Linked DNA regions of Homo sapiens. The protein of the gene in region 2 binds, or shares a complex with, the protein of the main gene of each other region. Each region holds a gene or a part of one and is shown on either strand. Other genes may lie near its edges. The genes, in order: NFS1, FDX2 and NDUFAB1.

The links.
Region 1: the proteins of FDX2 (region 2) and NFS1 are in contact, whole or in part, in a cryo-EM structure (PDB 8RMC), measured with the Homo sapiens proteins. Residues at the interface, in NP_001384335.1 of Homo sapiens: Ala104, Cys105, Glu106, Ala110, Cys111, Pro141, Leu142, Ile169, Thr170, Arg171, Asn172, Phe173, Tyr174, Val175, Asp176, His178, Lys181; in NP_066923.3 of Homo sapiens: Gln153, Lys157, Leu160, Asp161, Arg164, Ala168, Tyr175, Ala384, Ser385, Leu386, Glu387, Pro388, Tyr390, Arg393, Gln456, His457.
Region 3: FDX2 (region 2) and NDUFAB1 share a complex: the UniProt entries of both Homo sapiens proteins name them as parts of the mitochondrial core iron-sulfur cluster (ISC) complex.

Annotation. Positions count from the first base shown.
Region 1 is NC_000020.11:35,697,302-35,701,047, forward strand, and holds the start of NFS1 (cysteine desulfurase isoform a precursor), read right to left. Parts: upstream 2,052-3,746; 5' UTR 1,988-2,051; coding exon 1,891-1,987; intron 1,290-1,890; coding exon 1,180-1,289; intron 500-1,179; coding exon 383-499; intron 1-382. Other genes in the region: ROMO1 (reactive oxygen species modulator 1), read left to right, coding at 2,332-2,462, 3,497-3,605.
Region 2 is NC_000019.10:10,313,955-10,317,700, forward strand, and holds the start of FDX2 (ferredoxin-2, mitochondrial), read right to left. Parts: upstream 2,062-3,746; 5' UTR 2,043-2,061; coding exon 1,898-2,042; intron 1,806-1,897; coding exon 1,751-1,805; intron 1,600-1,750; exon of another isoform or gene 1,539-1,599; coding exon 1,432-1,538; intron 1-1,431. Other genes in the region: RAVER1 (ribonucleoprotein PTB-binding 1), read right to left, coding at 3,500-3,646, 3,736-3,746. UniProt on the Homo sapiens protein: Electron donor, of the core iron-sulfur cluster (ISC) assembly complex, that acts to reduce the persulfide into sulfide during [2Fe-2S] clusters assembly on the scaffolding protein ISCU.
Region 3 is NC_000016.10:23,582,696-23,586,441, forward strand, and holds part of NDUFAB1 (acyl carrier protein, mitochondrial precursor), read right to left. Parts: intron 2,729-3,746; coding exon 2,641-2,728; intron 1-2,640. UniProt on the Homo sapiens protein: Carrier of the growing fatty acid chain in fatty acid biosynthesis.

The DNA.
Region 1 (3,746 bases), on a different chromosome or scaffold from region 2:
TAAAAAAAAAAAAAAAGAACTATTGAGCTCTTACTATTTATAGTACTTCTTACTTACAGATGTTGTGGTAATAAACACTTTATCAGCATTGTCTTATTTAATCCACCCAGTAACCCTACAGAGTAGAAACTACCACAATCTCTGTTTTAAATGAGGAAAATAAGGCTCAAAGAAATTAGATAACTTGCCCAAGTCATTTAGCCAGGAAATATGGGAACCAATCAAATGCCTGCAGTCAAACTCCAAGGCTGCTCTTTGAATCTCTTCCAGAAAGAATCCAAAACCATTTCTACCTCCATGCACACCTACCAAGAAAGAAATGCCTCCCACAGGCCACTGCCCCTCTTTGACCTTAGAACCTCCTAGACTCCTGTGTACTAACCTGACGAGCACGTTCCATGGCTGCCTCACTCTCCCAGCCATAAGCATGTGTCCGGGAGTGTGGGTTCCCATAGTAGTTGATTAGGTAAGGGAGCATGGCATCAAGCACCCGGGGGTCCTGAACACAACAGAACAGATCATTTTCCTTGAGCGCATCGTCAATTCAGGTCCCACTCCACCCCTCAGACCTGGCCACCCTGCCTTAAGACACTCTCAACCCCTCAGGCACTGCCTAGAGGAGGCCTCAAACATTCTTTTGTTCCCACAAAACTACCCACCAAATATCAACCTAATACACTCCCACTCACAACCCATCCCAACTCGGATTGTTCTGCCTCCCCTCAGGTAGTCTACAAACACTGCCTTGTTCCGACATCTGTTTCTGCTGGTGTTTCCATTCCTGCCAGGTAATGTGATCTATAAGGGGCTGGGACAGGACAGGGCCTAGGCAAACACCCCTGGTCACACATTGGTGAAAACTTGCATTAGTCTTTTAACCCGTTTAATACTTGTCCAAGTTCACACAGTTACTAAGTGGCCGTTCTGCTCATTCCAGAGCCCATGCTTTTAACTAATACTATAGAGCCTGCGCTGAAGTGATCTGACCAAGGTCAATTGCTAGTGAGTAGTAAAGCCAATGCCAGTGGCCTCGAATTTAAGCCTCCCGACTCCTCGCTCAGTGCTTTTTCCAGCACACCTTCACGGCTCTCACTTCTCCAGGGATTCAGCCATTTCTTTGCGTGATCACGCCCATCATTTACTTCCTATAAGCAGCCTTGGGAAAAGCTTCATCCTTACCAGAGGAGTTGTAGCTTGCACATCCATATAGAGAGGTCGCAGCACTGGCCCCACCTCCGGGGCAGCGGCTGTATCTGCGGGAACCGCAGACTGAGGAGCACGGTCTCCAACTGATAAAAAATGGAACGGAGTAGCCAAGTAAGACCGAAGGCAACTATGAACGCATGGCATCCAAAGGGCAGAAGGAAAAATCTGGCTGGAGGTGAGATAAGTGTAAGGGATGCTAGGGTCGAATCTCAATGGAAAGAAAACAACACCAGATACCTGACACGCTGTAAAAGGAGGTAAGGGAGAGGGAGAGAGGGTTCCTGGAGGGGGTGTTGAGTTGATATTCAAATGGTATCGTAGGAAGGAAGGCTCTAAAGGGCAAAGACGTTTAGAAGGAACGTGGAGCCAGAGTAGGTGCAGTCCCTTCTGACCGAAGGTAACGGTCTGCACGGGAGCCCGGAGCAGCATCTGTAACTTGGCCAGGAGCGGTCTGAAGGACGCGCCTCCACGGCTCTGGGGGCCTGTCGCGCAGGGTGCGAGGGGTGGTGCGCCGGGGTCAACCGTTCGGGGACCCGCCTAAGAAAGTTTGAGGGATGTGTCATTTGAGAGAAGGGTCAGAGGGTCTGGGCAGCAGGGTGGACAGGAAGGCTCCGGAATATTCAGTTGCGTCGCCGCGCGGAGGGGACAGGTCCGCGCCTCCCGGAGAGCGGGACCCGAGCGTACCGCGCAGGCGCAGCCCCCGAGTGGGCGCCGCGGGCTTCGGCCCTGGAGCCGCTGTCACCGCCACTGCCGCCCGCCTCCAAGCGGCTCGGAGCAGCATGGTCCCGCTGGCAGAGCCCACCTTCCGAAGCCGCTGCAGTCCTGGGCCCCAGGCTCCCGGAAGTGCTGCCCGGCGCTCCGGAAGCGATTCATCGGGCCGCGAGCGCCCTCCCCGTCGTTTTCCGTGAGAGACGTAGAGCTGAGCGACCCAGCCCGCGAGCGAGGTGAGGTAGGCGCCGGGCGACGCGGGGCCGGAACGCGAAGAGGGTGGTGGAGTCGGGCTACCCACTGATTTTCCTTCCCTTACTTCCCCTGAGCCCTTGGGCCCACTTCCCAGCCTACCGCTTCCGTCCCCGCCCGACTCTTGGGCCAGCGCCTGGGCCCACACTTTCCTATCCCCCGCAGATGCCGGTGGCCGTGGGTCCCTACGGACAGTCCCAGCCAAGCTGCTTCGACCGTGTCAAAATGGGCTTCGTGATGGGTTGCGCCGTGGGCATGGCGGCCGGGGCGCTCTTCGGCACCTTTTCCTGTCTCAGGTGAGGGGCGCGGGCGGTGATCTCTGGGCAGGACAACCAGACCTTCCGGCCCTGCCCCATTCGGCCTGGAGCCTGAACACAGCCTCCTTCTTTCGACTTCCCTCTCTGTCCCCTCGCGAGCCAGACTCATTCCAAACCACCTTCAATCTGTAAAGTCAGGTTGGAAGCGTCAGTGCTTAAGAATTTGAGCTTTAGAGTCAAAATGCTTTCTGGCCCTTTTCTTACTGGTTCGGTGACTTTAGGCAAGTTGGAGACTGGGTTTCCTTAAGTGTAGAATGAAGACAGTAGCATCTAACTTATAGAGTTGTAAAAATTCGATCAGCACACTTTGCACAGCATCTGGCACATATTAAGTGCTCAGTAACTAGTTACTACTGTTGCTTTTATTTTTTTTTCCAATTGCGCATAAGGAAAGAAACTCGTTCAGCGGTTTTACTATTCTGGATACAGGATACAGAGATAAAGCAGTTAAACTTTACACTCTAAAGGTCATTTTCACATTTAGAGGCTGTTATTGCCATATCCCTAGATTGTAAATTATCATTTACAGAGCACTTACTCTATGTTAAGCACTGTGCTAAATACTGTAGTTTTCAAAATCCTGTAAATAATGTTGAGATGCCCATTTTACACTTGACACTATGTGTAAATTGTAGAGCTGACTCTTGAACCCCCACCTTACTCCAAAATCATTAACACCAAGAAACTAAAAGACAGATGTCTTTATTGGGTCTTAAACTGCAGGCAACACCAGTCAAAAAAGCTGGTTTCTCTATGTATTTTACACTGCATCTGCTGCCTCCCACAAACTGAAGGCAGTTAATACGACATCCACCAGAAAAATACCCTGGAGACCCAGATGGATCTTTTTCCTTCTCATTACCCACCCCAGGTAGTAAGATATAATATCCAGTAAGTGGAAAATCAGATGTAGGGGTTGCTAGACTAGTGTTAGCAAAAAATTGGAAAGGAGCAGTTAATACTCTTTCTGATATTTTTGTTACCAAATAGCTCCATCTTGGTTTCCTCCTCAGGATCGGAATGCGGGGTCGAGAGCTGATGGGCGGCATTGGGAAAACCATGATGCAGAGTGGCGGCACCTTTGGCACATTCATGGCCATTGGGATGGGCATCCGATGCTAACCATGGTTGCCAACTACATCTGTCCCTTCCCATCAATCCCAGCCCATGTACTAATAAAAGAAAGTCTTTGAGTAGTCAGTGTCCCTCTCTTAAAGGAATATTCTTCTCTCAGCCTATTATCCAGCTTTGCCAAGGATCTTC
Region 2 (3,746 bases):
ATTACAGGCGTGAGCCACCGCGCCTGGCCTTTTTTTTTTGTTTGTTTGAGACAGAGTCCCGCTCTGTCATGCAGCCTGGAGTGCAGTGGTGCCATCTTGGCTCACTGCAACCTCTGCCTCCCAAGTTCAAGTGATTCTTGTGCCTCAGCCTCCCAAGTAGCTGGGATTATATGCATGTGCCACCACGCCCAGCTAATTTTTGTGTTTCTTGTAGAGACAGGGTTTCGCCATGTTGGCCAGACTAGTCTCAAACTCCTGTCCTCAAGTGAGTCGCCTGCCTCGGCCTCCCAAAGTGTTGGGATTACAGGCATGAGCCACTGTGCCTGGACAAGAAATTTCTATTATTATTTTTCTCTCAACAAATTATCAAACATCTGTTACATCTTGACAGGCAACAGATAAGCATGAATAAGGACATGGGTCACCAATCTCACTGGGGGACAGATGACAAAGTAGGAAACAAAACAGCCTGGCATTGTGGCTTGTGCCTATAATCCCAGCTACTTGGGAGGCTGAGGTGGGAGGATCACTTGAACCCAGGAGTTCAAGGCTGCAGTGAGGTATGATTGCATCATGGCACTCCAGCATTGGCGACACAGCAAGGCTCCGTCTCTTGAAAAAAAAAAAGTGAGAAGTGCTATATATCATATCACACTGATAAGACAGAGTAACTAGGGCATGGGTACTTCAGCTGGGCTGAGGGGAATGGGATTGTTAGGGACATGACATTTACACTGAGGTCTGAAGGATGAGAAAGAGCCAGAATGTTTGCTGGGAAAGCACTTCAGACAGAGGGAACAGCAAATGTAAAGGCCCCGAAGCAGGAATGAGCTTGGTTGTTTGAGGAACCACAAGAAAGCCAGTGTGGGCTGGGCGCGGTGGCTCATGCCTGTAATCCCAGCATTTTGGGAGGCTGAGGCGGGTGGATCACCTTTCAGGAGTTTGAGACCAGCCTGGCCAATGTGGTGAAACCCCGTCTCTACTAAAAATACAAAAATTAGCTGGGCTTGGTGGTGGGCGCCTGTAATCCCAGCTAGTCTGGAGGCTGGGGCAGGAGAAACGCTTGAACCCGGGAGGTGGAGGTTGCAGTGAGCTGAGGTGCAGTAAGCCATTGCACTCCAGCCTGGGCAACAAGAGTGAAACTCCATCTCAAAACAACAACAACAAAAAGAAAGCCAATGTGGCTAGAATACAGGGAGGAAGGGGGAAGAGAACACAAAATCCTGGGAGCCAGGAGTCCTAGTGATCTCTAATAAATGCTTAACAAATAAGAGCTTGGCAACAGATGAGGCCATGGTGAGGGGTTTGGATTTTAGTCCATATTTGGTGGGAAAAAGACGTGAAGAGACACACCTAATTTGTGGGTTTTTTTTTTTTTTTTTTTGGACAAATGTATAAGGACCTCCTTAATTCCCTCTGCCCGGTTCCTACCTTCCAGGTCCACCCCGTGGCGCTGGGCCAGGTGAAGAACATTGTCCCCGACTCTGCCACTCACTGGGATCCGCTGGCCTGAGCGGTCTACGAACACCACGTTCACCCTGGGGACAGATGGAAGTGCGAATGCCGAACTGGATGATGGGCTCAGGGCCCGGGTAGAATCTAGGGTTAGGAAGTAGGAATTGAGGCTTGACGCACAGGTACTGAATAGGGCAAAGCAGAAGGGGGACCTCGAGATGAAGCTACAGGGCAAGATGGGGACCAGAGGAATTCCGTGGGATGAGGAATGGGGGACTTGGCCCCCTGCACTCACACGTCCCCGGGCCGCTCCGGGCCGCCCGCGTCCTCCTCTCCAGCCGGGCGCGAGCCTGGAAAACACGGTTCGGTGAGCGGCTGCGCCGAGCCCCGCCCCGCCGGCATCTGACGGATTAACGCTGCCCGCCCCGGGCGCCCCAGGTACCTGTCGCTTGAAACTTTCTGGTTGTCCCCAGCGCCACCCCCTCCCCCGACCCGGAAGTGCCCCCAGGTCTGTTCCACCAGGTGCCCCTGGCAGCCTGCAGTAGAACCCTGGCACTCACGCCTCCCCGGGCCATGGAGGCGGCCATGACATGCATCACGTGACTCACCGACTGAGCATGCGCCGCGCCAGGGAGGCGAGGGAAAGCCCATAATCAATGGAACATAAGCGCAGATGTTTGCTTAGGGCCTGCGGTGACCAGGTGGGAAGAGCAGGGCGGAATCCATCTCAGGTAAACCCGCGGGGCCATCCCAGACCTCCCACTCAAGCCCACTGTTTGTCCCAAGAACCAGCCAACTCTGATTTCTTTAAAACCATTTACTTACAAACTTTAATTCAGCAAAGGTCCGTGTGGGGAGACTGGGGTGGGGTCGGGGGAATAGTCCCCTTGGAGTGGATGTGGACCCCCAGAGTCAAGGGAGGGAAGCTGGTGGCCCAGTTGGCTGGGGGCAAGGCCCAGGGTCACCTCAGGTCGACAGGTCCTGCTGGTGGGCGGGCCCAGAGTTTATCTTCATGGAGTGCTGGTTTCTGGCACTGGGCTGGAAGGAGGCCAGCTCCAGGGATCTGGCCGGGGGTGGGCAGGCAGAATTCAAGAATTCATCTTCAACAAGCGAGTGACAGCAGAGGCTCCGGGAGATGGGCACAATGTCCGACTCCCACAGACAGACAGCAGGGGACTGGCAGAGAAAGCCCATCTCTGCACGGAGGCCCGGGTAGGAGGGGGTGGTGGGGCCGGTTCGCCAAGATGAAGGCTTTCCCCTTCTACTGTCCCCAGGGTGGAGATCCTGGGTAGGGTGGCCCAATCCCTAGGCCAGAGCTGTTTGGTCCATAGTCAAGCTCCCAGAGCTTGGCATCTGTGGCTCTGGCCAGCAGGGCCTGGGGCCCAGCTTTTAAGGCATCAGAAGGGGAGGGGGCTGCGGCAGGGACCCCGGGCCCCACGGCTGGGGTATAGGCCAGATGGGCAGGCAGGGGCAGGAGACAGCCATGCCTGCAGCAAATGTGGGAAAAACAGCTGTTTCAAACCGCAAGGTGTGGAATGGTGGCCCGGACAGGCCGGGCCTTGAAGGAATCAGAGCTGGGGGCTGTCCGGGGTGGTTTGAAAAATAAAACTTAGAAAAGGAAACAGAAGTCAGTTGTCAAAGTTAAAAAAAAAGGAGACAGTCTCTGTATCTTCACGGGAGGTCAGGGAAACCTCCAAGGCACTCGAAAGGCCAAAATTACAGGAGCAATGAGGCAGGAGGGCTCCGGAGAGACGGGCACAGCGGAGGAGGAGATGGGGGGAGGGAGGGAGAGCAGGCCGGGGCCCCTCTCTCTTAAGGCTGCAGGGTTTCAGCGTGGGGAGCAAGCCAGAGACATAATGAGGCCTCCAGACTCCCCCACACCCCTTGGGCTCCTGGGGCTCCGGCTGATTGGTCAGTAAAGTCTTTCAGAGATTTTTCTATTACCGAAAGAGAGAAAATGGTTTAAAAAAAACACAAAACAAAACATCAGAAAACCCAAAAGCGATTTGGTGCAGGCCCTTGAGTTATCTCTGGTGCCAGCCACTTAGAAAATCCTCTTCCGCTTCAGGTAGGAGTCCGCGTAGTGGCCGCCGAGGCCCTGGGAGTGCTGGCCCACATAGCTGCCTTCTGGGCTGGGCTCGGGCGAGGGCAGCAGGTGGGCAAAGCTGCGTTTCTGGCCGCCCAGTGGGGTCTGGAGACAGAGGGCAGGGCGGGGCGGGTCAGGGGCCGCTGGGGGGCCGGGGCTTCCCAGCCCTGCATGTCCCCACCCCCTGCCCGTACCTTCAGCAGGT
Region 3 (3,746 bases), on a different chromosome or scaffold from region 2:
AAACCCAGCTCCCTCTCCCTCTCCCCACGGTCTCCCTCTCCCTCTCCCTCTTCCCACGGTCTCCCTCTCCCTCTCCCTCTCCCCAAGGTCTCCCTCTCCCTCTCCCTCTTCCCACGGTCTCCCTCTCCCTCTCCCTCTCCCTCTCTTTCCATGGTCTCCCTCTGATGCCGAGCCGAAGCTGGACTGTACTGCCGCCATCTCTGCTCACTGCAACCTCCCTGCCTGATTCTCCTGCCTCGGCCTGCCCAGTGCCTGCGATTGCAGGCACGCGCCGCCACGCCTGACTGGTTTTCGTATTTTTTTGGTGGAGACAGGGTTTCGCTGTGTTGGCTGGGCTGGTCTCCAGCTCCTAACCGCGAGTGATCTGCCAGCCTCGGCCTCCCGAGGTGCCGGGATTGCAGATGGAGTCTCGTTCACTCAGTGCACAATGTTGCCCAGGCTGGAGTGCAGTGGCGTGATCTCGGCTAGCTACAACCTCCACCTCCCAGCTGCCTGCCTTGGCCTCCCAAAGTGCCGAGATTGCAGCCTCTGCCTGGCCGCCCATCGTCTGGGATGTGAGGAGCCCCTCTGCCCGGCTGCCCAGTCTGGGAAGTGAGGAGCGCCCCTTCCCGGCCGCCATCCTGTCTAGGAAGTGAGGAGCGTCTCTGCCCGGCCACCCATCGTCTGAGATGTGGGGAGCGCCTCTGCCCGGCTGCCCAGTCTGGGAAGTGAGGAGCGCCTCTTCCCGGCCACCATCCCGTCTAGGAAGTGAGGAGCGTCTCTGCCCGGCCACCCATCGTCTGAGATGTGGGGAGCGCCTCTGCCCCACTGCCCCGTCTGGGATGTGAGGAGCGCCTCTGCCCGGCCGCGACCCCATCTGGGAGGTGAGGAGCGTCTCTGCCCGGCTGCCCCCTCTGAGAAGTGAGGAGCCCCTCCGCCCGGCAGCCGCCCCGTCTGAGAAGTGAGGAGCCCCTCCGCCCGGCAGCCGCCCCGTCTGAGAAGTGAGGAGCCCCTCTGCCCGGCAGCCGCCCCGTCTGGGAAGTGAGGAGCGTCTCCGCCCGGCAGCCGCCCCGTCAGGGAGGTGTACCCAACAGCTCATTGAGAACGGGCCATGATGACGATGGCGGTTGTTTCGAATAGAAAAGGGGGAAATGTGGGGAAAAGATAGAGAAATCAGATTGTTGCTGTGTCTGTGTAGAAAGAAGTAGACATAGGAGACTCCATTTTGTTCTGTACTAAGAAAAATTCTTCTGCCTTGGGATGCTGTTGATCTATGACCTTACCCCCAACCCGGTGCTCTCTGAAACATGTGCTGTGTCCACTCAGGGTTAAATGGATTAAGGGTGGTGCAAGATGTGCTTTGTTAAACAGATACTTGAAGGCAGCATGCTTGTTAAGAGTCATCACCACTCCCTAATCTCAAGTACCCAGGGACACAAACACTGCGGAAGGCCCCAGGGTCCTCTGCCTAGGAAAACCAGAGACCTTTGTTCACTTGTTTACCTGCTGACCTTCCCTCCACTATTGTCCTATGACCCTGCCAAATCCCCCTCTGCGAGAAACACCCAAGAATGATCAATTAAAAAAAAAAAAAAAAAAAGAAACCCAGTGCCCGTCAGCAGTCACTCCCCATCCTCCCTAGCTCTGGCAACCACCCGTGTACTTTCTATCTCTGGATTTGCCTCTTCTTGACATTTCATGTAAATGGTATATAACGTGTCATCTTCTGTGTCTGGCTTCTTTCACTCGGCACGTTCTCAAGGTTCGTGTGCTGTAACACACGTCACCCATGCATTTTTTTTTTTATGATGGTTGGGTTTTTATAAATGGCTGGGTTTTGGTAGTTAGCTTACTTTGGCCCAAACACTGTGCTGAGCATTTTACACATCATCTCTAATTCTCACAGCAATTCCAATCCTGGGGTTCCTACTATTATCACCCCCACTTTACAGCTGAGGAAACAGGCTTTGAGAGATACAGTTACTTGTCCAGGCTCATACCTGACTAAGCTCAATTCCAGACCTGGTACTCTTAAGCACTAGGCAAAGGGATTCCATCCTAGTCAGCATCATCTGTGAGGAATTTTAACTAGGCCCTGCTCTGCAGAACAGCACAGAAGTCCTTTGATTTCCTATTCAGCCAACTCACGCAGAAACAGCCATGGAACCTTATAAAGGTCTCACCTGCCCAACACACAGTCCCAAACTTGGAGTGTGCTTGTGAGCCAGGATAGGAGACCAAGGCCAGAGGCTCTGGGTGCGTCTCTTGTCCTGGCACACATTACTTCTACCTGGTTCGCGTTACCCGAGCTCAGGAGGGGCTGACATGTCATCAGCATGTGTTCCGGGGAGGCTTTTGCCCTTTGTCTTAGAACCCTGTCTGAAGAATCAGTCCCCTGGAACCATCTCTGGTCATTCGGCTCTTGGCACCACACTGGGCACTCTGCTGGGCTTGTGCAAGGTGCTCTCTGAATAAATGTACCATCCCTAAAGCTTACTTCACCTGATGGTAAGTGGGCAGGAAGGTGTGTGTGAAGGGCAGTGGATGCTACTGTTTCTATTAATATTTAATTCTAATTCCAATTCAGACGCCCACCACTTCTTTCAGTTTAATCCACCTTAATCAAAAATCGCAGTGTGTAGATAGAAGACTGAGCCTTACCAAATTCGTCTTCCATGGCCATGATAATCTCCACTTGGTCCAAACTGTCTAAGCCCAGGTCTTTCATAAAATGAGAATTTACTGAAAGCTGCAAGAAAGGAGCACCAAACACAAAATTTAGTCCATGAAAGCATCTGCTTCCCAAGATAACAGGGTGGTACAATGCCACTTAATCACTATATTGAATTTATTATACTTTAAGTTTTAGGGTACATGTGCACAACGTGCAGGTTTGTTACATAGGTATACATGTGCCATGTTGGTTTGCTGCACCCATCAACTCATCATTTACATTAGGTATTTCTCCTAATGCTGTCCCTCCCCAAACCCCCTACCCCTTGACAGGCCCTGGTAAATGATGCTCCCCACCCTCTGTCCAAGTGACCTCATTGTTCAGTTCCCACCTATGAGCGAGAACACACAGTGTTTGGTTTTCTGTCCTTGTGACTACATCGAATTTTTTTTAACATACAGAGGCTATAACTGACATTTTATATGTAACCTATGCTAGTATGTACATGGTTTGCTTTATCTTACTCTGTTTTGAAGTGAACAATATATACATAGCTAATGAAGGATTTCACTCTAATGTTGTCTGTTTTTTGGTTTTTTGAGAAAGTCTTGCTCTGTCACCCAGGCTGGAGTGCAATGGCACGATCTCGGCTCACTGCAAACTCGGCCTCCCGGGTTCAAGCAATTCTCACCCCTCAGACTCCCGAGTAGCTGGGATTATAGGCGTGCACCACCACGCCCAGCTAATTTTTGTATTTTTAGTAGAGACGGGGTTTCACCATGTTAGTCAGGCTGGTCTCGAACCCCTGACCTCGTGATCCACCCACCTTGGCCTCCCAAAGTGCTGGGATTACAGGCGTGAGCCACTGCGCCTGGCCAAAGTGTTTACTATCACCCTATCACTCTAATTTAGACCTCAGGATCACCAGGAATGATTCTTCAAAAACCCAAATCAAAAAAAAAACTGCCTTACCTACACAACAGATTCAATTTTTTTTCGTTGTTAGATGGAGTTTCACCCTGTCATCCAGGCTGCAGTGTGCAGTGGCATGATCTCGGCTCACTGCACCCTCTCCCTCCCGGGTTCAAGCAAT